7 separate regions of the Homo sapiens genome follow, and all the other regions are linked to region 6. Evidence: fine-mapped expression QTL. A gene starts in region 6. Each other region holds a variant in brackets. All regions are shown on one strand. Distances are between the middles of the regions. Region 1 has its middle 2.4 kb from the start of TRPV6. Region 2 has its middle 27 kb from the start of EPHB6. Region 3 overlaps TRPV5 (transient receptor potential cation channel subfamily V member 5). Region 4 holds the start of LOC105375541 (a long non-coding RNA gene). Region 5 overlaps LOC105375541 (a long non-coding RNA gene). Region 6 holds the start of EPHB6 (EPH receptor B6). Region 7 overlaps TRPV5 (transient receptor potential cation channel subfamily V member 5).

The links. PIP is the estimated chance that this variant, and not a neighbour inherited with it, causes the effect.
Region 1: its variant is fine-mapped to the expression of EPHB6 in skin (TwinsUK, PIP 0.93).
Region 2: its variant is fine-mapped to the expression of EPHB6 in blood mononuclear cells (TOPMed, PIP above 0.99).
Region 3: its variant is fine-mapped to the expression of EPHB6 in whole blood (INTERVAL, PIP 0.98).
Region 4: its variant is fine-mapped to the expression of EPHB6 in whole blood (TOPMed, PIP 0.94).
Region 5: its variant is fine-mapped to the expression of EPHB6 in whole blood (TOPMed, PIP above 0.99).
Region 7: its variant is fine-mapped to the expression of EPHB6 in whole blood (INTERVAL, PIP 0.95).

Annotation. Positions count from the first base shown.
Region 1 is chr7:142,886,099-142,890,176 of GRCh38, forward strand. No RefSeq gene overlaps it. Among named protein-coding and RNA genes, the nearest start is that of TRPV6, 2.4 kb to the left of the region's middle. The variant A/AT (reference allele first, on the strand shown) is at 2,233.
Region 2 is chr7:142,825,976-142,830,053 of GRCh38, forward strand. No RefSeq gene overlaps it. Among named protein-coding and RNA genes, the nearest start is that of EPHB6, 27 kb to the right of the region's middle. The variant C/A (reference allele first, on the strand shown) is at 2,318.
Region 3 is chr7:142,907,250-142,911,327 of GRCh38, forward strand. It overlaps TRPV5 (transient receptor potential cation channel subfamily V member 5), which reads right to left. Exons shown (of 15, transcript NM_019841.7): 14 at 2,241-2,347; 15 at 852-1,559. The coding sequence ends at 1,265. Among named protein-coding and RNA genes, the nearest start is that of TRPV6, 24 kb to the left of the region's middle. The variant G/C (reference allele first, on the strand shown) is at 1,596.
Region 4 is chr7:142,810,252-142,814,329 of GRCh38, forward strand. It overlaps LOC105375541 (a long non-coding RNA gene), which reads left to right and starts at 3,946. Exons shown (of 2, transcript XR_001745392.2): 1 at 3,946-4,078. It also overlaps TRB and TRBV30. The variant G/A (reference allele first, on the strand shown) is at 2,510.
Region 5 is chr7:142,815,238-142,819,315 of GRCh38, forward strand. LOC105375541 (a long non-coding RNA gene) reads left to right here. Exons shown (of 2, transcript XR_001745392.2): 1 at 1-888; 2 at 1,519-2,199. Among named protein-coding and RNA genes, the nearest start is that of EPHB6, 38 kb to the right of the region's middle. The variant C/T (reference allele first, on the strand shown) is at 2,153.
Region 6 is chr7:142,852,846-142,856,845 of GRCh38, forward strand. It overlaps EPHB6 (EPH receptor B6), which reads left to right and starts at 2,231. Exons shown (of 20, transcript NM_004445.6): 1 at 2,231-2,540.
Region 7 is chr7:142,925,513-142,929,590 of GRCh38, forward strand. It overlaps TRPV5 (transient receptor potential cation channel subfamily V member 5), which reads right to left. Exons shown (of 15, transcript NM_019841.7): 4 at 3,916-4,053; 5 at 3,510-3,608; 6 at 3,179-3,354; 7 at 2,576-2,722; 8 at 17-229. Among named protein-coding and RNA genes, the nearest start is that of TRPV5, 6.2 kb to the right of the region's middle. The variant CT/C (reference allele first, on the strand shown) is at 2,426.

The DNA of each region.
Region 1 (4,078 bases), 33 kb after region 6:
TTTCCCACAGTGCCTCTTCTGCCGACCACCTGCCTCACTCTCTGCCTCCCCCTGCTTATGTCCTGGAGAATTCCATTTTCTGGACTCTTCCAGTTTCATTCTTGCCAGGCCTGAAATAGGTATATAAATTGCGAAGATACTCAGTTCTCCCAGACTTTCCTCTCAGTCCCCATCACCTTTGGGTCAGCAAACTTTTTCTGGAAGGGCTGATAGGAAATGTAAAGATGTTAGGTTTTGCAAGCCATGTACACTCTCTAATGTACGTTATTCTTTGGTTTTGTTTTGGTGGTTGTTTTCTAACCACCCCCAAAGATGTAAAATGCATTCTTCGCTCACCAGCCAGGGCACAAAATCTAGCTCTGGGCAGACCCCCTGCTCAGGAGCTCCACAGACTGTCCACAATGCCCCGTGCATGGGGTGGGTGCCCGATAAAATACAGGACACGTGGTCAAATTTGAATTTTAGATAAACAACAAAGAATTTTTTAGTATAAATATACCCCACGTTTTGCAAGTATTCTATCTGCCAGCCTTCCCGTGGAGGTGACATTCAGCTGCTACTGTGTGCTGGGCCTTTTAACTGAGCGTTCCCAGGTAAACTCGTAACAAACCTGCAAGGCAGGTATTATTATCTACATTGTATTGATGGGAGAAACCAAAGCTCACCATGGTAAAGGAACTCTCCCAAGGCCATAGAGGTGGCAGAGGCAAGATTCACACCCATCCCTCATTCCAAGCCCACTTCTTTCTCCCTAGCACACCTCCTCATTCTAACTGGCCAACAGAGCTTCAGAGAGGTTAAGTGACTCGCACAGTCATACAGAAGAATGATGGCATTAAGCATGGCCCATCGTCTTCCCACAACAAAGAGCTCCATCATGAGCTTGCTGGAAGCTGTCGGAAAGGTCATTTAGTTCAACTTTTCCACTGGAAAGGGGCAGAAGCCCGGGCTTATCCAACCTCCTGGTGCCAGCCAGGTGCCAATAGCCTAGGGGCAGGTGTCTGGGTGTTCAGAGTCACAGGTGTGTGGATCACTTCCTAGCTTCAGAGTCTGTTTTGTCCTAACTTTCTCTGACTCAGAGTTGGAAGACCCAGCCAGGGGAGTGTGTGTGTGGCGTGTGTATGGCGTGTGTGCCCATGTGCATTTGTGTGTGGTGTTTATGCGTGTGTTCATGATGTGCATCGGTGGGGTGTTTTGTGTGTGGTATGCTGTATGTATATGATGTGCCTGTGGTGTGTTTGGTATGTGTCTACGTGTGTATGATATATGTGATATGTGTAGGTATGGCCTGTAGAGCGTGTGGATGTGGTGTCTGTGATGGTATGTGTGACATGTGTGTTGTGTATATACGTATTGTGGAAAGATTGTTGCATGTGTGTTGTGTGTATGGTGTGTAGTGGGTGATGTATATGGTACCTTTAAGGTATGTGTGCGTGTACATGATGTGTGTGTGTGTGTGTGGTGTATACATGATTTGTGTAGTGTATGGTGGGTTTACTATGTGTGTATGTATGGTGTGTGTTGTGTGTGTATGTATGTCATGGGGTGTGTGTCATATGTGCTGTGTGTGGGGGGAGTCGGTGTGTGGAGGGAGGTGGATGCTGAGGTAGGGCAGGGGAGAGAAGGACCCCTTCAAGTGGAAAGCTATTTGTGTTCCTGCCGCTGGGCAGAGGCCAGGCCACGCAGTCCTGAGCAAACAGTTCAATTGGATTAGCTTCGTCCCCACCCACCTGGGTCAGTGGGTTCGGGCTGGGTTGGGGGAAGGTGCTAGAACCCAAACCTTGAACCCCAAGACCTTTGTGCCCATTAAGCCAGTGGTTTGTCGCTTCAAAGACCTATTTAGCTTCAAAGACCCCAGTTTAGTGTCTGGTGGGGAAGGAGAGAAAGCAATGAGGCCTTCGTTACGCTGGGGAGAGAGGCTGGGGGAGGGAGGCTTTGGGAGGGAGACTTAGGGAGGGAGGAGGATAGGAGGAGGACAAAGTTGTTTTCCAATGCTCTTCCTCTTCCTCAGCCTCCTCCACCTGGTGTTGTGCATGGATCAGCCAACAGACTCAAAATTGGGGTGTCCAGATGGGAGGGGAGGACAAGTTTGCAGGATATAAGCTTCTGGCTGCAATGTTCTCTTGGTCTTTGGACCTAACATCGTATCAGTAAGGGAAGGTGGCCCTAGGGTAGGTGGCACTACCCCCAGAAGCTCCTGAAAGCACCCCCACCAATCACTTTCAGTCTCGC[A/AT]TTTTTTTTTTTTTTTGAGATGGAGTCTTGCTCTGTCATCCGGGCTAGAGTGCAGTGGCGTGATCTCGGCTCACTGCAAGCTCTGCCTCCTGGGTTCACGCCATTCTCCTGCCTCAGCCTCCCGGGTAGCTGGGACTACAGGCGCCTGCCACCATGCCCAGCTAATTTTTTGTATTTTTAGTAGAGACGGGGTTTCACCATGTTAGCCAGGATGGTCTCGATCTCCTGACCTTGTGGTCCGCCTGCCTCGGCCTCCCAAAGTGCTGGGATTACAGGTGTGAGCCACCGCGTCCAGCCTCAGTCTCACATCTTAAACCTGCATCCCATATTGCTTGTTTCCAGGGGACAGGAAGGATGCCGTGGACCTCCTTCTCCCTTGAGACTAGCACAGCCCCCTCTGTGCCACTCCACCCCAGGGCAGCACCTCCTGACATGGGAGGAATCGGTTCTGTAACCCACAGTCAAGGAGTGGGCATGCCCAGGAGGCTGTGAGTTTTGGGGTGAAGGTGGTGAGGGGGAGACTGGAGATCCTGGGAGAGCACTCACGGGGCTGGCCTCTCCCGGTTCCCTTTCCCAGGCTCCAAAAATAATAAGACTTGTGTGACTTCTGAGTGAGTCGCTCTTCCTCTCAATGATTTTATCCATAATGATGAGTGCATGGCCTGACCTCTTTTCTGCCCTCGTGGTGGCCTCTGACCAAGCCCTGAAGAGAACCGAAGGGGTCAGGAGCCAAGAGGGAGGGAGGACAGGACTGGAGCAGGCAACCTGGGGACCAGGTGGTTAAACCAGTCCTCCCTGCCTGGGGCTGAGCCTCAAATGCTAAGTGAAAGTGAGGTCCTCAGGCTTCCCTGGGGGCCCCAGGGCAGAGTGTCAGAGCCTCCTCTGACGGCCCCTGAGAGGGGCAGAGAGGTCACAGTTACACAGTCCTGAGCTGGAGGCACAGGAGCTCCAAAGAGCTCCTGTGCCCCCGATGTTTCCGCATTTGGGGCACAATTTCTCGACCCCGGCACTATTGATATTTCGGAACAAATAATTCTTTTCTGCAAGGGCTGTCCTAGGCATTGTAGGAAGTTTAGCAGCATCCGAGCCTCCACTCACTGGGTGACAGTAGCATGTCCCTCCCCTCCATTGTGACCACCAAGGAATGTCTTTACACGCTGCTCATGAATGTCTTTACACGCTGACATTGGCAAAATCATTCTCCATTGAGAACCACTGATTTAGAGCCAGAAAAGTATATGTATAGTTTTTTTCTGGCTTTGTCACTTTTTATTTGTCCTATGTCTTTCTATGTTTCGCTCAGTTTTTCCTGTCTTACTGCCTCTGTCACTGTGCAATAGTATCTCTGCTCCCTTGCTCTTAGTCTCTGTGGTGAGGGGTGTGTGTGTGTGTGTGTGTAGTGTGTGTGTACATGCATTGCATGTGTGTGGTATTTTGGGGGTGTACTGGTGTATTTCTATAGTGTGTGTGGTATTTTGGGGGTGTATTGGTGTATTTCTATAGTGTGTGTGGTATTTTGGGGGTGTATTGGTGTATTTGTATAGTGTGTGTGGTATATGTGTTGTGGTATGTCAAGTGTCAGTGTGTGGCCTGTGGCAGTGTCCCCTGGCCTCTTGGAGGGCGTGTCCTTGCTCTCTGCTCATGAGGGATGGAACCAGCAAGGGGTAGTGAGGTCAAAAGCATTGCTTACTCACTCAGCTTGGAGTTTGTTCCAGTCACTGGGTTCACCAGCCGTGCGCCAACTCATAAAGCCTGCAAAGGAGCCCATGACAGTTAGTGCATGCACACACACACACCTGCAGACACACACACACCTGCAGACACACACATGCACACACACACCTGC
Region 2 (4,078 bases), 27 kb before region 6:
ATGGAGAACACAAAACCAGTAAAGAAAAACCAAAGTAACCAAAAGTTTGTTATTTGAGAAGATCAATAAAATCGATAGGGTGCTAGCAGACTAATCAGGAAAAAAGAGAGAAAATATAAATTACTCATATTAGGAATGAGAGAGAAGGTACTGCTACAAAATCTACAGGTATTAAAAGAATGTTAAAGGAATATTATAAACAACTTTATGTCAAAAAATTTTGAGCAGAATAGAGAATCCAAAAGTAGATCCACACATATTTGGACAACTGACTTTCAACAAAGCTGAAAAGGCAGTTCACTGGGGAAAGAATAGTTTTTCAGTAAGTGGTTCTGGAGCAATTAGCTAACCATATGCAAAATAACAATAATAAACCTCAACCTTGCCTTATACCAGCAACACATACTCACTCAAAATGGATTATACATTTAAACAGATTTGCTAAAACTATAAAGGTTCTAGAAGAAGACATGAGAGAAAATCTCAGTAATGTTGGGCTTATTAGTGATTCTTAAATAAAACACAAAAAGCATGAAGCATAAAAGAAAAAAGCTGAATTTCATCAACATTTAAAACTAGATGGTGAAAAGATAACACTAAAGGAATGAAATGTTTGCTGGGTGCAGTGGCTCACGCCTGTAATCCCAGCACTTTGGGAGGCCAAGGCGGGAGGATCACTGGAGGCAGGGAATACAAGACCAGCCTGTCCAACATGGAGAGACCCCATCTCTAGTAAAAATACAAAATTGGCCGAGCGTGGTGGCACATGCCTGTGGTCCCAGCTGCTCGGGAGGCTGAGGCAGGAGAATTGCTTGAACCCAGGTGATGGAGGTTGTGGTGAGCCGAGACTGTGCCATTACACTCCAGCCTGGGTGACAGACAGAGACTCTGTCTAAAAAAAAAAAAAAGAAAGAAAGAAAGGCACAGGTCCACACAAAGACACAAATTTTCATAACAATTTTATTTGTAATAGTCAAAATTTGGAAAAAATCCAATTGCCTATTAATGGGCGAACTAATGCTGAAATTGTCATGTATCCACACAAAGGAAAATTAGCAATAAAAAGAATGAACTATTTAAATTTAAAACAACATAGATAAATCTCAAAATAATATGATGAATAAAAGTAAAGAAACAAAAAAGAGTACATAGTTTATAATTGCATTATATTAAATTCTAGAAAACACAAAGAAATCTATAGTAATAGAAGAAGCACTCTATCAGTGTTTGTCTGGGAACAGCATGGAGAGAAGGATGGAATTATAAAAAGCCACAAGGCTATTCACAATAGCAAAGACATGGAATCAAACCAGGTGCCCATCAATGGTAGATTGGATCAAGAAAATGTGGTACATATACACCATGGAATGGTACGCAGCCATAAAAAAAGAATGAAATTATGTTCTTTGCAGCAAAATGGATGCAGTTGGAGGCCATAATCCTAAGCAAATTAATCCAGGAACGGAAAACCAAATATCGCATGTTATCACTTAAAAGTGGGAACTAAACATTGAGCATACATGGATATAAACAATGGAACAATAGACATTGTGAACTACCAGAAGGGGGAGAGAGACAAGGGGAAGTGTTTTGAAAAACTACCTATCAGGCACTATCTTCTGTACCTGGGTGACAAGATCTGTACTTCAAACCTCAGTACAAACCTCAGTATTAGGCAATATTCCCATGTAACAAATCTGCACATGTTCTCCCTGTATCTAAAATAAAAGTTGAAATTTAAATAAATAAATAAATAGCGGGCCACAGCAAAACTTTTGGAGGTGATGTGTAAGTTCATTACATTAAGTTTTATGATGGTTTCCCAGGTGTTTGCGTATGTCAAAGCTTACCAAATTGTACATTTTAAAGATGTCTATTGTTTGTCAAGTGCATTTTAATAAAGCTGTAAAAGAAAGAATTATTTTTGATACAGTGTTAGGACAACAGAAAACCACTGAGAAAATTTAAGCAAGAGAATGTCAATAATTAATGCCACATTTTAACTAATTAACTGCAATTAATCACAATCAATCAGTAAGAAAAGGTTTTGTGCTGAAGATTTTCCAGAGAGATAAGTAAGCAAGTATATCATGCATGCAGTGGAGCAGGGCAGAGCCTCATAAAATCCCTCTTAAACGTGTCTGTTCTTTTGCCAAATTTCCATTCTGGTTGCCAGCTACCTTTTTCCTCCTCTTTCTTTCCACAGCCACTGCCATCCTCATTATAGCCCCAGACAATTCAGCTCTTGAAAGTGTATCCAGCAAAACAAAAGTGTAACAGCAGCTCAGCACCACTTGGAAAGCAGTTGCATAGCCAC[C/A]TCTTTCTCTACAAGCTCAGTCCTTCCTGAGGTTGCCCTCTCACCTATTCCCCTACATCAAAAGTGACTCATCAAAGTATTCAGTAGACAAAATTAGTCTCTATCCAGGGAGAATTCACTACTTGGAAAGTAAGATGTTCTGTTTCTCATTACATACAAAAAAAAAAAAAGTTGATAAAATCACAGAATTCAGTTTGAGAGAGAGGAAGATACTAAATGTCATTTGTCATTCTGACCTTGAAGTCACATTGAGTCCAATTCAATCAGAAAAGTGCAAGTGAAAATTTGGATTTTTAATGAGACACCAGGACTAGAAATACTGACTTCAGGGGTCATCCGCAGAGAGAAAATAGTTGAAATGTTTGGAATGGATGAGATCTCCAAAGCAACAAGTGAAGAAAAAGGAACAAAGGTCCAAAAATAAAAACTGTTGAACATCCACACTTATAGGTAAAAGGAGGGGAAAAGTAAGCTTAAGAAATTAAGAAAGTAGTTCTAGAGGGAAGACAAGAAATGGGATGGTATCTTGGAAGTTCAGAGGAGACTGTGGGTACAAAGAGGTGGCAGCAGGATTTAAAAGAACTTTAAAAATTCAGTAAAATTAGGACTGAATGACTTCACCGATGTTGTTGACTAGAGGAGGAGAAAGTAGCAGATTCAGAGCACTCATTTGACAAGTTTAGGGGCAGAGCGAGTAAGGGAGAGGTTAAAGGGAATGGTAGAGTTGAATACAGTCTTTTATTCCAACGTATTTATAGTCTGATTATATAGAAAGCCAAGAGGAAGAACTACATAAAGACAGGAAAATTGAAGATGCTAAAGAAAGAAGATATTTGAGAAACAAAGAGGCATGTGGATTAATTATTGGACATCAAGAAGGGGGAACTTTTTTCCTCTGAAATAGGAAAAGAAGAGAAAATGCGTAAAAGATAGACCTGCACTGAGGAAGGCCAACATACATACAGAAAGAGGCTAGATCTAATGATCGGTTGAATGTAATGTTTTTAAAAACCCACCATTTCACCCATCAGATTGGCATAATTAAAAGAATCAATAGTATCTGATGTTGGCAAGCATGTAGGGAAATAACATGCTCTCATGCACAGCTGGAAAGTAAACTGCAACAGTCTTTATGGAGGGTAATTTGGCAGTGTTTATTGAAACTCCACATGGCCGGGCGCAGGGGCTCACGCCTGTAATCCCAGCATTTTAGGAGGCCAAGGCGGGTGGATCACAAGGTCAAGAGATCGAGACGATCCTGGCCAACATGGTGAAACCCCGTCTCTATTAAAAAAAAAACACAAACATTAGCTGGGCATTGTGGCACGTGCCTGTCGTCCCAGCTACTCGGGAGGCTGAGGCAGGAGAATTGCTTGAACCCGTGAGGTGGAGGTTGCAGTGAGACGAGATCATGCCACTGCACTCCAGCCCGGCGACAGTGCAAGACTCCGTATCGAAAAACAAACAAACAAAAAAACACAAAAAAAACAAAAACTGCACATAACATTTGACTCAACAACTTACTTCTCAGAAACAATTCCATAAAAATACATGCATAGGTGGGCAGAAAATTTTGCCAGGACTTCTGTTATAGCCTTATAAAGGGCAAAGTATAGGCAATATGTAAATATCCATCAGTAGAGAATTGGACAGATAAATATCCATAACATACATTTTAACAACAGTTAAAATGAACAAAATAGAACAAGATGTGGTAACATGGAAATATCCCCAAGGTATGTTGTTCAGTGAAAAAAGTAA
Region 3 (4,078 bases), 54 kb after region 6:
ATTCTTAAAAACACACCAGGATGCAAACACTTCAGACTGTGAGCCTCAAAAAGCAAAGATAAGGCAATTCAACAACAACAAAAACCTAATTCGAAAATGGACAAATAAACTGAAAAGACATTTCTCCAAAGAAGGTATATAAACATCCAATAAATAGGTGTATAAAAACGTGCTCAGTATCATTAGTCATTAGGGAAAGGCAAATCAAAACTACAATGTGAAGCCACTTCACACCCATTAGAAGGGAATGTAAAATGGTGAAAGCTATTGTGAAAACCAGTATGGCAGTTCCTCATAAAACTAAACATAAGAATTGTCTAGCAATTCCATTTTTAGGTGTATGCCCAAAGTATCTGAAAATAGAAACTAGAACAGATATTTGTATACCATATTGATAGCAGCATTATTCACAACGGCCAAAAGGTAGAAAAAACTCAAATGTCCATTGGTAGATGAATAAATAAACAAACTGTGTCAAATTTTGGACTAAGATTGCAGAATCCCACTTACATAAGATACCTAGAATAGTTAAATTCATAGACAGAAAGCAGAATATTGGTTATCAGGGACCAGGGCAGAGAGATAGCTGGAGAGTTATTGTTCAATGGGGATTAGAGTTTCAGTTCCGAATGATGAAAAAGTTCCATAAATGAATAATGGTGATGGTTACACAACAATGTGAATGTACTTAATGCCACTGAATGGCACATCTGAAAATGGATAATATGGTAAATTTTATGTGACATGTATTGTGCCACAGTAAAAAATTAAAGAAGGCAAGAATAAGGAGACTTTTTTATTGCAGTTGGTGTTTGCTTGCTAAGTGGAGAGAGAGACCTACAGGAGGCTGGGAAAAAAAGAAGGGCCACAACCTCTATGCCATGCCTGGCTCTTCCCACGTAAGCCCTGGGGAGCCAGAAAAGCCTCACAGCTTACTACTTTCTAGGGGCTGCGTGGGGCAGAAGAGAAATGGTCCTGACATTAATCTAGCATCCCTGCCTCATGTCTTTAGTTGCCAACCTCCTTTTTCCTGAGATGGGTGACTTGCAAGAGCCCAGAAAATACGTGAGACAATCGATGACCATTGCCCATTGCCAGAAATTCTGATGTGAAGTGTGAGGCATGACCCTTTAGGGATTGTTCTGTCTCACCCTCCCATGATTAACAGGCACAGAAGTTAGACACTTGCATAGGCAGAGGTCTCCGTCTCTGTCCCCGCCCCCAGGCCAACCGGGAGTAAGGTCAAGAGTGATAGCGATGTTAATCAAAAATGGTAGACCTCCTCTCCATCCCCCTCACTAAGGTTCAGTCCAAGATTCAAGTGCCCCAGGGTGTTTTGACGAAGGATCTCCCAGCCTCGGTGACTGCTGCTCTGGGACGCGGTCCGGGACAGGGAGGAAGTTGGAAGAGCCAAAGAGGCTCTGGCTAGAGTCCCACTCTCAGCCCCAGAGGGCTGTTTCTCAGATGGATGCTCCTGGTCATCCTCCTTGTCTGAGTTCTTGAACACTTCCACATAGCGAAGCACTCGCAGAGGATTCTGATCATTGTGGTTCTCAACCCTGATAAGGGGAAAGGGGAAAGGACTCAATCCAGGT[G/C]GGGAGACATGGGCAGGGGAGAAGTAGAGGTGACCATTTAGAAAGCAGGGTCAAGAGGGAAGCAGAAATAAGGCAGCAGAGTTGAAACAGGAAGAGTATCTGGGATCAAGTGAAGGGAGGTGATGGAGGGCAGGCTAACCTGGGATAGAGATAATGGAGGCTGAGCAATCAGGGCTTGCAGGGTGGTAGGACGCACACAGGTGTGTGTGTGTTTGTGTGTTACTAATACGTAGGAATGTGAAAGAGAAAACAGAGCCAACTAATAGATAAGCGTGTCACAAGGATGACGAGATGCAATTCAGGAAGTAAATTTGAGGAGAGAGGAGAGTCACGCCGGGAGATGAGGGCAGAATATGAAGGAGGAAGTTAGATCCAAGCCAAAAGTACACTGGAGATGAAGGTCAGCTCAGAACAAGGTTACAGCAAGTCTGGTAACCCATGCTGACGTCTGAGCATGGACACATGCACACAACCTTTTACACGTGGCTGCCCTGAGGTACACACAGCATTCTTCGTACCCCTCCACTTCAGCTCCAGCCCCCTCCCCTAGACAGGCTAATGTAGGCTCCAGGACGCCTGTCGGTCACCCTTGCTTCCGTGGCCTTATACACATCTGCAGTTTTGCATGTGCACACCATCACTCACCGCAGGAACCAGCGGTCCCCCAGCCCGAATTCGCACCCACAGATCCCGGAGCGAGGCCACAGGCAGCGAGGCAGCTTCCGCTCCAGCATCACTGTGGTGGCCACGACCTGGAAGGAGGCAGGAGATACAGGAAGAACTCTGAAAGAGCCATGAGGTTCAAAGAGGCACTGAGGCCACTGATAAAGGGAACCAAAGGCAATCTGTGAGATAGGACACTAGAGGTCAGTGGTGAGAACAGCCACCTATTCACCCCACAGCCTGTGCCAGGCACCATGCAACCAGCTTCACTCATCAAGAAATGAGAGAGGATTTTTTGTGAGTGTTTTGAATAAAATAGTTGCCCTTACATTACTATTCACTCATGGAGAATGAGTCACTCCAAACTAATCTCAACTTCTTTTTCATATAAAAGCCACAGACCAATTATCTCGATTTAAATAAAATGATTAAAGAGAATCTCTACGATCTTGGGGATGAATTGATACTGTTACTGTTCAGGGAATTTTCAGCAAATTAAATATCCACATCTTAGGAAGGAAAAGGGTTGATTAATGACTGCAAGTTGGCAGGGAAATTTCTGGTAGCAAGTCCACCACACGTTCTGTCCTTTGCTCAGCCCTCATTAATTACTTAGATGAAACATGGGAAACAAGCTTATCAAATATGCCTGTGACACAAAACTGGGAGGGATATGTAATATGTGGGGCAACAGAAGCAATATAAAATTATCTCGCTAGATTGGAATGCTGGTGTAAAATCATTAACAAGAAATTTAAGTAAACCAAATCTAAGGTCCTATATTTACATTTAGGAAGCTTAGATAAGTGAGTCATAGAACAAAGGTGTGGGAGTGCTAGCTGATCACAAGCTTAATAAGGGCCATTTGTATATTTGCTAAAAGACCTGACTCAGCTTTAGGTACCCTTAGCATTATGTCCAAGTAAGGAAAGGCATAGTCCCGCTTTGTACCGCATTGCCCTAATCATACTGGGGACTATTCTAGTTTCAAAGAAACCATGATCTATTAGAGCATGGACAAAAGGGTGCAATCAGAATAGATCAGAACCAGGAAGGCTTCCTAATTGAAGGAGTGCAATCTTCAAAATAGCAAATTCTTCACCTCATGTTTTTCTACTCCCTATCTTCCTCATTACTCCACACTTCTTTCAGTTTCTTAATTGCACCAAGTTCCCTCCTAGCTCAGGACTTCCAGTCATTCTGTGCTCTTACCCTGGATAGCTGTTCTTCTTTGCCTTGAAAGAAATGTTTATTGTTCCTCCTGAGCCATCATGCAGCCCCGTCCTTCCTCGGGTAACAGCACCCATTTTTCATTTAGGGAATTGCTCCCTCATCACTTTTAGTGCATTGGTTTGAGTGGACTGGGCTTCACACAGTTGTGCTTAATTAATCTATTTTCCCCCAAACCTCCCCTCCACCACCATCACCAACACCTCCACTATCTAGTCCTTGGTCTTTCCTTAGATTCAACGATGTGCCTATGACCCGAATGTGTTCCCATGAGATGGAACATGGAAGGAATTGGCAGGGGGAAAGATGTTCTTTTAAAGCCTGCAGTTTTGCCTGGCACCAGGAGCCTCACAGAATACAACGTGAGTGGGGCCCTCGGAGCTGCGTGTTGCATTGCACATCCTCATTCTTTTTGGAGTTTGGAGCTTCTAGAAATGATCTCACAAACACGATGGGAGAGCTTGCCTTAGAAGAGAGGTCAAAAGAGAGCCGAACAGAGGAATGGATGTAATGTATAAGATGTGGATCTGCATTCTGGCCAGATACCTCTAAAGTTAGTTTAATTCTCTAAACTTCCCATTTATGAGGAC
Region 4 (4,078 bases), 43 kb before region 6:
TGAACAGTCTTGCATGAATAAGAGCAGATAACATGGAGGATGTTAATTTGTTCTGCTGAATTTAGGTGGCTTTCAAGCCTCTCCTTCAATGCTCACCTGTCTCTAGGATGCTCTGTGCAATGATCAGGACTTTTTTTCTTCAGATTCTCTAAAACTTACAATATTCACATAGACCTGCACATTTCTACACAAACTGACTCTCCTGCTTGCAATGTCATTTTGCTTATATAACTATTAGCCTCCTAAAGAGCTAAACTTAGCTACAATTTTATGTCCTTTGTGAAGTTTTCCAGAATTTTTGCAGTATATTACAGGAAGGAAAAATCTGCCTCAAGTCTCTACTAATTCTACTTGACTAGTGGTGATTGCCTGAGACATTTCTCTATTAATGAGGATTCTGAAGCTGTATAAAGCCCCTACAGAATCAGCATCTGAATAGGCACAGCATAGGGTTCAAGTTTCATGGTTTTGCCATCCAAGCATGTTTAGCATTTTAAATATTAATATTTATTACATACTTGTAGTTTATGATTTGAAATTTTTTAACTAAGTCTTCCTCTTGGGTAAGTTGTAATGAAAATAATCTTGTAAGCTTAAGGAGCGGAAAATAATACCTGTTGAAAATTAGAGCTTGTAATAGGGCTTTATAAACACCATCTCATTTAATACACATAACAATTCAATGAGGCAAGTTTTATAGGTGGGGAAAAACTTGAAACTTAGTAAAATTAAATAACTAGGTCAAGTTCATAACAACTAGCAAATTTTTAGACTACAAAAATCAAGTGCTTTGACTAAATCATGCTATGACTGTGCCCAACACCATCTCGAGTACATTTTATTTTTCTTTTTAATCCTCAAAATGACTCACTGTGTCCAGCAAATAATAGCTGCTTAATACATAGGTGATCCTTAAAGTTCAGTAGGGACCCCTGGGCATTATTCCATATGTTCTTGATCACTCTGTGTCTACATCTCAGATTTTCCACTTCAGATTAAATGATACTAGAAATATGCACGTGTCTGGATTGATCTAGGTTAAATGATGCCCGGAATGGAGTATTTTAAGACATCTTGTGCCCCCTTGTGGAGGGGAAGGGACATTAGAAAGAAAATCTTTTTAAGAACAAGGACTAGGGAGGGATGGGGATGAGGAAGGAAGCTCAGTTGCCAAGGTAACCATCGAACCTCTTCCCAGCCATCCACATCAGCCTTTTCCTCTCCTTCATTTCCATCCAAGTGATTTCTCTTTTTTAGAGCTCAACCATTACACACACGGTCCTCTTCTTGCGTATCTCTTGGATCACCATCTGTCTGTCTTTGCTACAAAGGAAGGGCTACAAGATAGTACAACAGGACATTTTTTAAAACCTCAAACATCACCAAAATTTCTAAGTGCAAGCTTATTTTTATTTTTTTTTTTTTTGAGACAGAGTCTCGCTCTGTCACCCAGGCTAGAGTGCAGTGGCATGATCTTGGCTCACTGCAACCTCCACCTCCCAGGTTCAAGTGATTCTCTTGCCTCAGCCTCCCAAGTAGCTAGTATTACAGACGCCTGCCACCACGCCCGGTTAATTTTTGTACTTTTAGTAGAGACAGGTTTCACCATATTGGCCAGGCTGGTCTCAAACTCCTGACCTCAGGTGATCCTCCTGCCTCAGCCTCCCAAAGTGCTGGGATTACAGGCATGAGCTACCACGTCTGGCCTAAGTGCATGTTACCTATACTAACAAAACCACACTTCTGCCTCGAATGAGAACAGTCTCCTGAACATCTTGCCTCTTTGCCTGACTCAAAGCCTCAGGTCTAAGCCTCCCCATAATTTCTAGTCTCAGCAGAAAGATCAATGACAGGAGACTCTCCAGGTGATGAAATTAACCAATTAAGTAACCTGGGTTGGCATCCTCCCGTTTGTTCACCAGCTCACCTCCTGCCACAGGTATATCCTTTCTCTCAGCCATATATGCACAAACCCCCTCCCCACGGCACACATAGAAGAATTTGGAAGACTAGAAAATCAGGCAAGGTATAGCACACCTTGAGGGCTGGAGTATGGTAGCCTGGGCCGGGACATCCATACATTGAGAACTTGACTATGTGCAGGCAAATCACAGGTTCTGCACACATACAATTTTTTGTTCTCCCTGAGAACTTAGTAGAGTCTTTTGTAGAATTCTCGCTTTATTCCATTGCTTTCACATTGGCCAGCAGTCAGAAACCTACTTACAAATATCCTCCACCCAGTCCCTAAGTGAAGGCCCCTGGGGAGTATGGTTAGGGCTCAGGAGAGGGTGGGGTTTTTGCACAGATGTCTGCCCCACCCAGCTCAGTGTGACACTCCAGGCACAGAGATAGAAGCCAGAGTCACTGAGAAGGAGCTTCTTAGAACTCAGGATGAACTGCCGGTCCTGGGGTCTGGAGGCTGAGAGATTCTGGGGCACCTCAGAGCTGATCTGGCCAATACCAACGGAGTAGAAGAGCAGCTGGAGGCCCCTGCCTGCAGCCTGTC[G/A]GTACCAGTATAGGTTGGGGTTTGATGTTCCCTCCACAGTGCACTCCAGAGAGAGCGGGCTGCCCACAGGCTGCACCAGGGTCGCTGGCCATTGATGAATAGTCTGAGATCTGACCCCTGTGGGAAAGATAAAGTGCCATTTACAGAGGAGCACCCCAGCCTGGCTTGCCTTCCCCAGACAGAGGGGCAGCTCAAGCTCTTGCATGACACAGGCACCTGGAATCCATCATGGGGAGTAGACTGGGGGAGCCAAGGATGCAAAGCATCCCTGGGCCAGGGAAGACCAACAGAACGAACTCCTTCTCAGGAGATAGAGAGAACTAAGAATCATCAGATCAGCCCCTAAGGCTAAATTCCCATATCTGTTCCAGACAATCAGGAATAGACTCAAGAGTGTCAAACCAACAGCTCAGACTCTGCATTCACGGGATTGGGGTGAGGGTGAGGATGAGAAAAGAGGCTTGCCAGAGAGGAGGGCACCCACCAAAGAAAGTGCCCAGGAGAAGGGCAAGGAGAGAGCAGAGCATCATCCAAGCCAGCCTTTCCTTCAGCTAGTCTGGGGGACAGACGCCTCCTCTTCTGGGCCAGTGATGTGGTCAGGCTGCTCCCTCTGGGAGATCTGCTGCCAGAGCAGAGGAATCCTACCCCATGAGCTGGGGAGGAAATGAGGCTAGTCTTCTTTTAAGAGTGTGGTGAATCACCCCCAGCCTCCCTGGGAACCAGCTATACTCTGCACTTGTTATCTTCTTTGCATTCCTGCTGACATCCTGGTATGTAAATATATTTAATGACTCATTATTTACCTGTAAACTAAAGGTAACTCTCCAGCTCCCCCGGGAGACATCAGAAGCCTGGGAAAGCTTCAGAGAAACTGTGATACTGATAGAAGGATGAAAAAAGATTTTAGTTTATCTGAAATTGGAAACTAGAGCTAGACATGTTACCTGGGAGATGAAAGGATAGGGCTCAAGAGATTCAGGTATTTTGGGGTAATCAAAGCAGAAATGCTCAGTTCTGAGGGCAGGAAGCTTCTATGACAGCCAAAGGGATCGCCTGCATAATCTTCATCCCTGGCAGACAGATTTTGAGACCTGGACAGGCATAATTAACTCCTGAACTGATCAAAGTTGGAATCTGCTCCATGTGTCTCTAATGGGCCAACTAGATCTAATTTATCCTCTAAATGCAATATGAGTAATAGGAAACATCACAGAGACTTGGAATCATATGGATTTGGGTTCATTTCACAGCTCTGCTTCTTGCTGGCTTGGGAACTCTCAAGCAAACCCTGATTCTCAATTTTCTTATCTATAAAGTGAAAATAATGATGACAATATCTAAAAATTGTTGAAAGATGCATTTTGCCTGGTGCACTGCAGGCAGGCACTCTTACATATGTTGGCTTTTTTTTTTTTTTTTTTTTTTTTTTTTTTTTGACTCCCTATGTCTGCAGCAAAGATTGGGAGATTTACAATGGCATGGGGTGGAAGGTAGGGGCTGAAGGGATCACGAGCCACAAAAAACACAGTCAAGCCACGAATTCATAATAGTAAGGATTCATAATAGCTA
Region 5 (4,078 bases), 38 kb before region 6:
CTCATCAGCTGCATCAGCTCAGTGTCATTACCACATGTAGACAGCAATGTAATCCTCCTTCTTAGAGATGCTGCAGCAGATTGGAGGGTGAAGAGATGTATCAGTCAGATCAGAGTAACCAGCTGGCTCCTGGCTCCTGATCATTGTCACAGCTCAGTAGCTGGAAGCTCCTTCCATATGGCTGATGCCTTTAAAAAAATCTCCTCAATCTCCATCCCCATCTGCAATACTGTTTAGTTATTCAATCATTTAAGTCATTCATGTATTGAAAAGAGGATGGGGATATGATCCCTCTGCTCTGTGGCAGTAGATCTACTAATGGGAGAGTCCTGGCCGCACATCTGGCCTGGGTCTGGAGGTGCCCTACGGAATTGAAAGCTGGCTGGAACTGTCATCTTAACATGTCCTGGTCATCTTAACGTGTCCACCTCTCTGGCAAGCCTCTTTTCAAGTCTTTTTGTTACCATCTTCAGCTTTTTCCCTCCATACTAGATTCTTAATGAATTGCTGCCAACAAGAGAAAGCTTTATACATGAAGAGAATGGCAATAAGAACTAACTCGTCTTTTTAATTTTAAAACTGGTATATATTCCTATATAATAGGAATGGAAGATACTTGCAAAGCCTATTTGTTCCTCTACAGAAGAGTTAAAAATTACCTGGGCTAATGGAAAGAAGGGAGAGTCAGCCAATTAGATGCTCCTGAATGCCCTGAATTGTGACTTACCTCTTCTTATCCACATCCTGATCAAGGAAAGGGATGAGAGAGAGGTGGAGAGAGAAGAAATGGAAATTCAAAAGTTTTGACGGCAGAGGAAAATTGTGCTTATTTCCAGAATGAGACGAACAAGGTCCTGGGTCCCTACATGTCATACTGGCTAGAGACTGGTAAGTAGAAATGACTTGTGGTCAGCAGAATAATGGCTCCCAAGGATGTCCACATTCTAATCCCCAGAATCTGTGCATGTGTTAGATTACATGGCAAAGGGGAATTAAGGTTGAAGATGGAATTAAGGTTTCTAATTGGATGCCCTTAGAACAGGGAGAGTAGTCAGAATTAATCAGGTGTGCCCCATACAATCACAAGCATCTTCAACATGGAAGAAGGAAGCAGAAGAGAGTCAAAGAAAGAGATGTGGACATGGAAGCAGGCAAGAGAGATGCCATGCTGCTGGCCCTGGAGGTAGAAGGGGGCATGAGCTAAGGAATGAAGGTGGCCTCTAGAAGCTAGGAAAGGTAAGGAAATGGGTTCTCTTCTAGAGCCCTCAGGGAAGAATGCAGCCTAGCTGACAGCTTGATTTTAACTCGGTGAAACCTGTGTCAGACTTCAGAGTTACAGAACTGTAAGATAATAAGTTTGTGTTGTTTTAAGCCACTAAGTCTGTAGTAATTTATTAGAGCAGCAGTGGAAAACATACATGGCTCTAGAATGTGTCTTAACAGAGGGACCTGAGGTAGTCTCCAAGAATCCCCAAAGATCTCAGGATAGATCAGGAATAGCCATTTTCTCATTCACAGGGAAACAGATTAACTGAGAGAAGCCATCAAGCCTGAAGAGACATCGTGTTTGAAATGTGTAAGGCACAGTGTACCCGCCGTGGATCAAAACAACCTGAAGGACAGACAGACAGACACACCGAGGATCAGCAGATATCAGTGGGGACAGGTGCTGATGATGGTGCAAATGAGAGTCATGAAGGAAAGTTAAATGATGACCAAAGACCAAGTACCTTCCCCACAATGCTTTGACAAGCGCTTTTATAAGCACCCTGGAATTTAGACACTACCCGGGGAGAAAAGGAAAGGGAGACAAGCATGAATTGTCTGAGAAACCCCTGAATTAATCATGTGTACCCCAATGCAACAAGGATCTAGATATAGAATAATTTTAATTATAGAAAACAAAATTATATTTTACCCACCCATATTTGATGCCCATGAATTTCACATCTACCTTACGTGCACATAAAATTCAAGCTTAGATAGACGGAAAACAAAAAATCAAGAAGCAATATTTGCCTTCTAATAACTTATCTATTGGAGGAGGTAAAAGATAGAAAAGTAGTTCAGATGACAAATACTAAAAGAGTTAGGAACTTCTGCTTCCACTTACGATGAAGGAACTTGTACTCAATCCATCCACTTTGTAATT[C/T]TCCTTGAGCTGCTGTAATAAAGTACCACAAACTGGGTGACTTAAAACAACAGAATTTATTGTCTCATGGTTCTGGAGCCTAGAAGTCTAAAATCAAGGTATCAACAGAGCTATGCTTCCTCTGAAACCTGGAAGGAAATTCTTCCTTGCCTATTCCTAGCTTCTGTTGATTTGCTGGCAAATTTTGACATTCCTTAACTTGCAGCTACATAACTTTAAACTCTGCCTTTGGCATTACATGGCATTTTCCCTGTGTGTTTCTGTCTTCCCACGGCTGTCTTCTTACAAGTACATCAGTCATATTAGGAGTCCACAGTGCTCCAGTATGACCTCATCTTAACTAGTCACACTTGCAATGACCCTATTTTCAAACAGAGTCACATTCTGAGGTACTGAGGGTTGGGATGTCAACATATCTTTTTCTGGGGGGATGGTGGGTATAATTCAATCCATTATACCCTCCAATAATAAACACCTAGAAAACTGGGCAATATACGTGAGATAATTGTTTTCTAATATTGGACAAGAGATGGCACAAAACTGTGATCCATAAGTGAAAGGAGACAAATGAGGTGCGTGCTGTGATCATTTCCGTTTTCTACCCAGAATTTCCTGGGTTACTGTACAAACAAGAGGGACCCAAGCAGAGCATGGCACCCTGAAATTCTTACTGAGCTGAGGACACAGCTCAGAGAAGAGGAGGCCATGCACGGAAAGAGCCCCGCAATTTTCATGAGGTCTCATTGAGTCTTTGGGTAAATACTAAGCTGGCATCCATTGGGTGAAACTCCACAGGGGCAGGCAAAGAATAAGTACTGGAGAATTAACAACTGCTGGTGAACTACAGTATGAATAATTACTAGATCTTGGTCGAGGCTGAGAGAGATACAGCTCTGAGCCATCAGAATAGCTTTGTTGAATACCTGGAACATTGAACAGGTATCCCAGGAAGCCCATAACTTAGAGTAGGACTCAAATGGCATAGAATAAGTCTACCGTCCATTAACCCTAACAAAGCTTAAAAGAGCCCTTGAAAGGAAAAGCAGACAAGTTGACCTGCAAGCAAGTCAACTGCCCACTAGAATAAAGCTCAACACTCTTTGAGAGAAGAAAACAAAATTCAGATAATAAAAAAGTAACATTCATAATGTTGAGCATCCAGTCAGAAATTATGGGATATACTTAAAAGCTGGAAAATGTGTCTATGCTAAGTAGTAATATTAGGCAATTGAAATCAACCCAGAAATGGCAGAGATGGTAAATTAAAATAATGGGACTTATAAATGGCTAATATACTAAAATGGCTATTATTAAATATGTTCAAGGATTTATAGTGAAACACAACATAATGAAGAATGAAACAGAAACTATAAAAAAGCTAAATAGAACTTCTAGATCTGAAAAATATCTGAAATGAAAATTTTGCTAGATAAGCTTAAGTTGGAGTAGACACTATAGGAGAAATGTCTATGAACAGGAAATCAGGACAACAGAAACTGTCAAAACAAGAGAGAGGAAAATAAAGCTAAACAACTACAAAAACTGGAAGAGGTCTCAGGGAACTCCCAAACAATATCAAGCCACCTAGCACACATATCATTGGAGTCTTCAACATAGAGGAGAGAAAGTGGTGGCAGAAAACAATTATTTTTAAAATAGTGGCCAAAATGTTTCATACATGATAAATAATATCCACCTACAGATCCAGGAAGCTTAGCAAAACCCAAGCAGGATAAGCTCAAAAAAGTTTGTTTATGAAAGAGATTACTTTCAGGTATGAGGCTCAGTTTAACTTTCACATAAGAGACAGACTCTGAGATGGTCCTTGAGAAGTCATAGGGTTTTAGACTGATAAAAATGACATTAAAAGGCAAGAAAGGATGAATGGTACAGAAATGACCAAAGGTACAGAGGCTGAAAGTACAG
Region 6 (4,000 bases):
CTCAGCCTCCCAAAGTGCTGGGATTACAGGCATAAGCCACTGTGCCCATCCACATAGAAAAAGTTTAAATATTATTTTTTATTGATTCATTCTATAACACTTCTAAGCACCTGGAGTGTCCCAGGCACCAAACAAATTATAGCAAAAAATTTACATTAAACTTTAAAAAGGAATTCATTACTTTGCTTTTTAATAGCTGCAGGTTGCAGCATACTTTAACAATGCATTCTATGCTCTCCACCTACCATTAAAACTTGGTTTGATAAGACATAGGCAATTAGGATGCAAAGCCGACTAATCACAAATTTAAACCTCTTTGCATCCTGAGTATGACACTTCCTTTGAAAACTAGATGCCTCTCAAATTTTATTAACAAGACAAATATAACTAATTACACAAGCCTTGAGCAGCAAAAACTTCATTTCATATTATAGTCACCTAATATGAGGTATATCATGAAATAGAAAAGAAGGCAGATATTTTTACTGTTATGTCAATACAGGATACGTTGCAAATTACTACAGGAATTTCTGGGTTTTATAAAGTAACAACTACGGTTTGGTTTTGTCCATATTTTTATTTTAACATAATCTAGTTATGTGTCTTTTTTTTAAGTTTTCAATATAACCATAGATGTCTAGCAATCAGGCATGTTAATGTATGAGTTACGTAATTCCACACACAATGCAAATTCTGTTTCTTTGCAGAAGTCTTTGAAAGCCTTGGAGATAACCAGAAAATGAAGGAAGCCCTCCACCACTGAGTTTCAGGGCAAAGGGAAGAAACAAGATAAAGTAGAACCGTCAGTACAAGTGGAATTATTAATGACGTCCAAATGCAGTCATTAAATACTATCAGACTTATTTATTGACTCCTGATATTAAGAGTGAACAAACCCCTGGCCAAGTGGGAACTTGCTCGGTAGCCTTTATCTTTCTATCACTCATTCAGTCAATTCATTAAAGCCTGTTTGTCTCTCCCAGGTGACTCTTACTGAGTTTCATTGTTTTGTTTATTGTGTTTGTTGGCTCATAGATCTCTTTCACAATTTTCTTCGGCTTCTGAATGCTCTTTAAGTACCAGTTTTGATCAGCCCATTTGCTTTAATAAACAGGAGAGCAAGATGGGACAGGGCGATACAGGGAGAAAAGGGGGCAAAGGGAATCGCACCGGGTGCTTGTGCTCCCTAGAAAAACCAGCAGGTGGTAGCAACACTTCGTGGCAAGGCCCCAGCCCAGCTCTGTAGGACCCAAACAATAGACCCCAAATCCCCGTCCTCGGCTAGAGAAGGGGTTAGAGGTGGGCGGAAACACTTTTCCTCGCGGCGCCCCCTCGGTTCCTCAACCCTGCCTCCAGGCGCCAGCTGAGAGCACCTTGCACCGCCCCTCCTCACTGCAGGGAGGTTCTCTCCGGAGCGCGGGCGAGGGAGGAGGCACCCAGAGGTGCAGCGACTTGCCCAAGCCATGTCAGAGCCAGGCGTACAGCAGCGCTTCCCCTTTTCAACCCGACTGCCCTGCCCCTTGGGGAGGGTAGATGGAGGGAGGTTCGACTCAGAAGCCCCAACGTTGACCAAGATCCAGACACGAAAAGAGAAAAGAGTTCCCGGCTAGCACGGCGACGCTTTCATACCGAGACGCCCCCCTCTCCCGCTGCCTCGGCTCCCCCTACCACCGCCCGTACTCTCCCAGATTTCTCAGTTTGTCTTTCCCTCCACCCCCTGCTTTTCCTTCCTTCTCTCTTGCTCAGCTCACGCCCACCTTAGTTCCAAGCTGAGTAGGAGCCCCACTGTTTTAGTTCCTAGAGTTAAAGCCGAAGAGGAGGGAGGCGCGAGGGGGTGTGTGCAGGGCTCTGCCCTGCCCTGAACTGCCACGGTCCGCCAGTTGCGCTTCGCTCCGCGGGTGTCCGACCCAAGCCGAGCCCGAGCCCGAGCCCAGGCAGGGGCTTTACAGACAGCCTCTTCCCTTCCCACTTCCTGCAGGCGCCCCACGCGTGCGATCCTCCCGGCCAAGACCCGCGGGAGGAGGCCGCCCCCTTCCCGGCGCACAGGCGGGGCCCCGGGCGCGCCCCGCGTCTCCCCCGCGCGCCGGGGCGGAGGAGCGGGCGCCGCGCACTCACCGCCTAGGCCGGGAGGGCGGGCTCGGCTCCCCGGAAGAAGGGAGTGGGAAGGCGGCCAAAGGGGCTGAAGGGGCGGGCCGGGCCGGCTTGGGAGGGGACGCGGAGGGGGCGGGCCGGGCTGCGTTCGCTCCAGCCGCGGCTCTACAGCAGCGGGCGGCGGGACCCGGGACCCAGCTTGGCGACGGCGATCTCGACGCGGGCCCCCAGGATCTCCCGGCGCCCCACCTCTGGAGCAGCCCCTGCCGCCAGCGTCAGGTCCACCCCGGAATCCCAGGGACTCTCGGCGCCGAACGGACCCGGGCCGGGTGCAACGGGGTCCCCGGACTGGAGAAGACGCGGGTGGCACCGTGCGAGCTCCAGGAGCCCCGGGTCCACTGCGAGGCCTCGGGGGGCGCAGACCTGCAGAGACTGCGGCCAACGGGAAGGTGAGCCCGCGGGGTTAGCAGGCGGCGTTGTGGGGGTCGGGGACAGTATGCTTGGGGACAGAGGAATTAAGGTTTGCAAGAGTAGTGGGGCTCCTCAGCCCCTAGGTGGCTTCCTGAGGGAGTACTGAGGATCCTTCCTCAAGGCCAGAGTGGGGTTCATGAAGGGTGAGGAAACGGTCAACCTGGCTACTCCCCTCTCACTCCACTCTGACCTGGCATCATTGACACCGCATTACCCTTGCTGTTAGGATCCCCCAGTTGCGTTCCCAGACATTCTCCTCTGGCTCTGGCTTGGGAGTCCTAATCTGGGAGGGTCCTCGCAGAGACGGAGCTCCACGCTTGGAACAGGATTGCCACCCCTCTGACTCCAGTGGCATCACTCCAATCCCCTTGGAGCTGGGAGGAGTCAGGAGGCTGACCACACACCTGTCCCCTGCTCCCCACAAGGCACTGTCCCCCCCAGCTCCATGACCACAGTTAAGCCTTGGAGGTGGAAGGAACGCTTGGTTCCTGCTGCCCAGCCATCACCCCCAACGTGCAACCAAATTCTATTGCGTGCTCCTGCCCCAGCTCCACCCTCGCTCTGCTCCCTCCATCTGGGTGCTTGGCCCTGCTTGCCCCACACCCCCACCCACCGATCTTGGCCGTCTGGCACCCTCTCTCCTCCCATCCCTGGGGGAGCTGGCATGGACCCAGCATAGCAATGTTGTAATGTCCCTGGCAGCGCCCATGGAGCGGAGCTGCTGGGTCTGTTCCCAGTTAACCCAGGCCCTCCGCCCGCCAGGGGAACTTGACTGAGGCTCTAGGAGGGGAGATGCTGGTCCTGAGCTGAGAGACCAGTGGGAGGGAGCTGTGTGGGGCTGTTAGTAGACCACAGAAGCTGCCCAAGTAAGGGGCATTGGAGCATTGAGGCTTCTGAGTGCTGCTCAGTGGGGCCACTTGGCTTTTCAGAGCAGTGGGCCTTTTTTCTCAAAGGAAGATTAGCGTGGGGGTGTCTATGTACTTACCTGGTGGCCTCAGAAGGAGGACTTGTTTGGAGTCTATTACTCCATTCAGGGTGCAAAAAGATGGTTGGCAATGACACTGAGTTACCAGAATGCTGGGGAGCAACAGGCTGGGGTGGGCTGAGCATGGGAAAGGCAGGATCCTCCTTCTGGGACGGCTGTTCTGCTATCACTCTGTCCTGAGCCTGGGCCCTAGACCCTGAGTTCCCACTCTAGGTAGAAGGAGGATGGCAGGTTCTGGAGGGTTTGGGAAGCCTCAGGTTTCCCTTTCTTTACCCACTCCTCCCCGCCCCCCACTTGGCTCCCTCTCCCAGCCCAGGTGTTTCTGCAGAAGTACCTCCTGGGGCCAAGAGCAACTCACAGCCAGACTGGGGGTAGAGCAGGGGCCGAAGGTGAGGAAGAAGGGCCCATGGAACCACTCCGGAACCAGCACTGATGTGCATCTTCTGCCACAGG
Region 7 (4,078 bases), 73 kb after region 6:
TTCTGAGGAGAATCACCTGTAGTAGTTTTTGCTGGAGGATGGTGATGTCTCGAGAATGAGTGCGGTTGCCACCACGAAACTTAAGGGGGCGGTAGACGCAGCACGTAGTAAAGCAGATCATGTAGAGCAGGTACAAGGCAGCCAGGATGCAGAAGTACGGCCGGCCATACTTGTTCCACTTGAAGCTCACCAGCTCCTTCACTGGGGTCTGTTCCAGAATTTGGCGAGCCTGGCATGGAAGTAGAGTGAAACTTGGGGTGACCAACACAGAAGGATGTTGTTTATCCCACTGGGGGCCAGAAGAGGCAGGGCAGCAACCATCACTCACTCAGCTCATCAGTCACTTATTTGACGGACAAATAGTATATTTCCTGCATATGGCTGGGCCTTGTGCTAGTGATACAGGTAAATGACTATAGCAGTAAACACAAGGCACCATAGCACCAAAGAGGATTTAAAGGATGAGTAGTAGTTAGATGAGTAAAGGGAGAGTTAGGAAAGATCATACCATAAGCTAACAGCAGTTGCCAGGTCAGGAAGGTCTGAGAAGCCATTGCCCATTTGCAGTTGAGATGTGGTTGGGGAGAGGGGAGAATCTATTGGGAGTGGTAGTCAGAAATGATAATGACTGAGGAAGAACAGGGCCAGGTCATCATGCATCATAAATGCCAAGGTAGGAAGTTTGCATTTTTTGTTTTTTCTAAATATAACAGAAAGCAACTGGGGAGTTCAAGCAGGGAAGTGGTCAGATTTGCTCTAGAAGTATTATTGGGCTGGAAAGAAGCAATGGAGGTTACAGGCAGTAGGATGTGGCAGGGTGGGATGGTGCTCTGAAATAAGCAGCCAGTGAGACGTTAAAGATACACAGGAGAGGGGATGATGGACGGGAGGAGGCATCTGAGAAATTAGAAAGAGACAGATTCAAAGCACAGTAGAGTGATTAGCCATTAACAGCATGAATATCTTTTCTACTGAAGCTGGAGGGGAGGAGAGAGACAGTGGGCAGTTTCCAGACATGCTCGGCAGTGTAGGGCAGGAAGCTGAAGGATCCCCAGCCAGAAAGCCTCTATTTTTGTCCTAAATCAGGAGTCTAGGTCTTCTGAACTGCAGCTGAAGGTAGTGAAGGATGTGAAAGGGGGCTAGAAAGGAAGATTTATGGAGGAAAAAAGCAACTGACCCAAGACACTTATGAAACCTGCTGGAGAATATTGAGAATAGCTTAAATCAAAGACCAAGGATATGTGGTGGCGAAATCCACACAGTGGGATTGTGCTTTTAATACCTAAGAAATCCTGCTCAAAGTGTATCTGTTTCCAGGGATATTCTCTGAGGAAGATCTCACAAACTAGCCACTCAACTTTTCTTCTATTCGTTAGTATTAATAATCATTCATGTTTTCTGGATCTATAAGGATTCCTGGGAAATTGTCACTGTGGCAGATACAAAACAGAAACTACATCTTGGCACTCTCATGGAACGTTCTGAAACCTGGAAGTCTTTTCTCCTCTCTACTGCAGTCTTCAACAAATTTTCGTTTCCCTCACATCACTCAACCCAGCATTGTTGAATGGTCTATACGTTGCTCCCTCTCTAAAAAGCTCTTTTTTTTCTCTCATCTTCCTGTGACTCCCAATTCTTCCTTGAAGATCCAGCCCCAGCATTTCCTCTGTGACATCTTCTCTGGTCTATCCAAGCCAAGTTAACTCTACCTCAATGTGGCTGTCTGCATGCATGGTACACACAACTATTACGGCATATGTCATGCTCTGTTGCAATTATTCAGGACAGGGACTGAGAATTGAGGAAGTTGATGAACAGGAACTGTGTTGTATTTATTTCTGTACTGTTTGTTTCTTGTGCAGTGCCTGACATACAGCGGGTGTTCAATATGCTTGTATTAGTCCATTCTCATATTACTATAAAGAACTACCTGGCACAGGGTAATTTATAAATAAAAAGGTTTAATTGGCTCATGGTTCTGCAGGCTGTACAGGTTCTGGAGAGGCCTGAGGAAACGTACAATCATGGCAAAAGGCCAAGAAGAAAGCAGGCACATCCTACATGGCCGGAGCAGGAGGAAGAGAGAGCAGGAGGAAGAGAGAGCAGGGGGAGGTGCCACACACTTTTAAACAACCGGATCTTGTGAAAACTCACTATCACGAGAACATCAAGAGGGAAGTCTGTCCCCATGATCCAATCACCTCCCACCAGGCCCCTTCTCCAACACTGTGGATTACAATTTGACATGAAATTTTTGCATTTGGACACAAATGCAAACCATATCAATGCTGAACCAATGAATGAATATGAGGAAACAGCTCTTATTTGGAGTTTCTCATCTGAAATGATAGAAGGCGAAAGGTAGGCAGAAGGGACTGGAGCTAAGCAGAGAGACAGGGGATTCAGGAGAGGAGTGTGCATTGGA[CT/C]TTCCCCCATGTCCCAGGAGACTATTCTCATCTCCACCTATTATAAGGCTGGGAAGTGTCTCAGGCCCAGGATCTTAGTAAGTGGACAGACTCTGCACAAACACTAAATTCCCTCACATGACAGGCCTGATCCTCCTTGGCATCCATACCTCTCGTTTATCAGAGGAGACCACAAGCTCCAGGAAGGACAGCTCCTCTCCCCAGGAGTCGATCTCCGTGAGGTCGTAGAGAATGGAGGTCAGGGGTCCATACGTCCACTGGATGTGCCTCCGCTTCTGCATCAGGTGCTGGAACATCTGAGAGACCACCAGGATGAGTCAGGGGGCCAACGTGTGAGAAGGTGGTCGAGGAGAACAACTCCATTGGATGGAGCCAGTTGCCCACCCCTTGAGACAGACAGACAGTGGGAACCAGCAAACCTCTGCATCTACAAGCTTTCCCTTTTTTGTCATCTTTCCTGCTCCAAAACCCCAGAAAGTGCAGAAAGAAGAAAATAGGCAAAGGAAGCTAGAGCTTTGGGTTATCACAGCACATGCATTAAGGTAAGGTTCTCAAATCCTCTTGAGTCAAGGACCATGAAGCTGAAGATTTCAGTGATGGAATAGGAAGCAAGGGACCACCATCCCTTTGGGGAGTTTGGGGAAAAGGGATTTTAGAGAAAGGTGGGCCCTTCACCTCTATTTCTCCCAGGGCCAGCAGGATAGGTTGAGGGTCATTAGAAAGACACCTCAGGGATGGGGAGCGTCTCTTACCACAGTGTTACCCTCCACTCCAGCCAGCTTGAAGGGGGTGAGACCCTGGTGATTGGGCACAAGGTCCAGGGGCTGCAGGTGGTCCCCATGTCCATCATAGGACAGCAGCAGGTTGTACATCTGGCAGGCAAAGGTTTTGTTGGGCTGGAGGATGAGGATGTGTAATACTGTGTTTCCTGGGGAGGACGCAGGGTATCATGTGGCCACTGGCCTAAAGTCCCTGATGTCCCCATCCCCACTCTGGGGTCTTCCTAAAGGTCCCAGCTCCACTCCTTACCCTGTCCCTCGCTCCCCACAGCATCCCAGCTCCCCTCCCCATCCCAGCTCTTACCCAGGGAGTCCTGGGCCCTGATGTCAGCTCCATGCTCAATGAGCAGCCGCACGATCTCCTCGCTGTTCACACAGGCAGCAAAGGACAAAGGGTGCTCCCCTGTGGACACAGAGAGATCCATGGCAGGAGAACGCAGGATGGCAGGATGGGGTGGGCAGTCTCCCCCAAATAAGGGCCTCCTCCTCATCCCCCATATCTCAGTTCTAGGCTGAGGGACACTCGTCCAGCAGAACCAGAGGAAGGAACCATCAGGGGAATGGGCCTCTGGCTTAATTAAGCCCTAGAAGGGCTGCCCCTCTCAACTGCCCAACAGATGGAGCTGAAGGCAGGACCCTCATGCCCTGGCCTCCCTCTGCCTTGCCCGCCTCTCCAGCCAACCATCCTTCAAGCCCAACCCTGCTCTCACCAAAGTAGATGAGGTTGCGGGGACTATGGCGGAAGGCAGTGCCTGTGGCTCTGGCAGAGACACTGGCCCTGCGGGTGAGCAGGGCACGCACCAGGTTCACATTCTGGTTCACAACAGCGATGTGCAGTGCAGTCTGACCTGGCCCAGAGACAGCCATCATCAG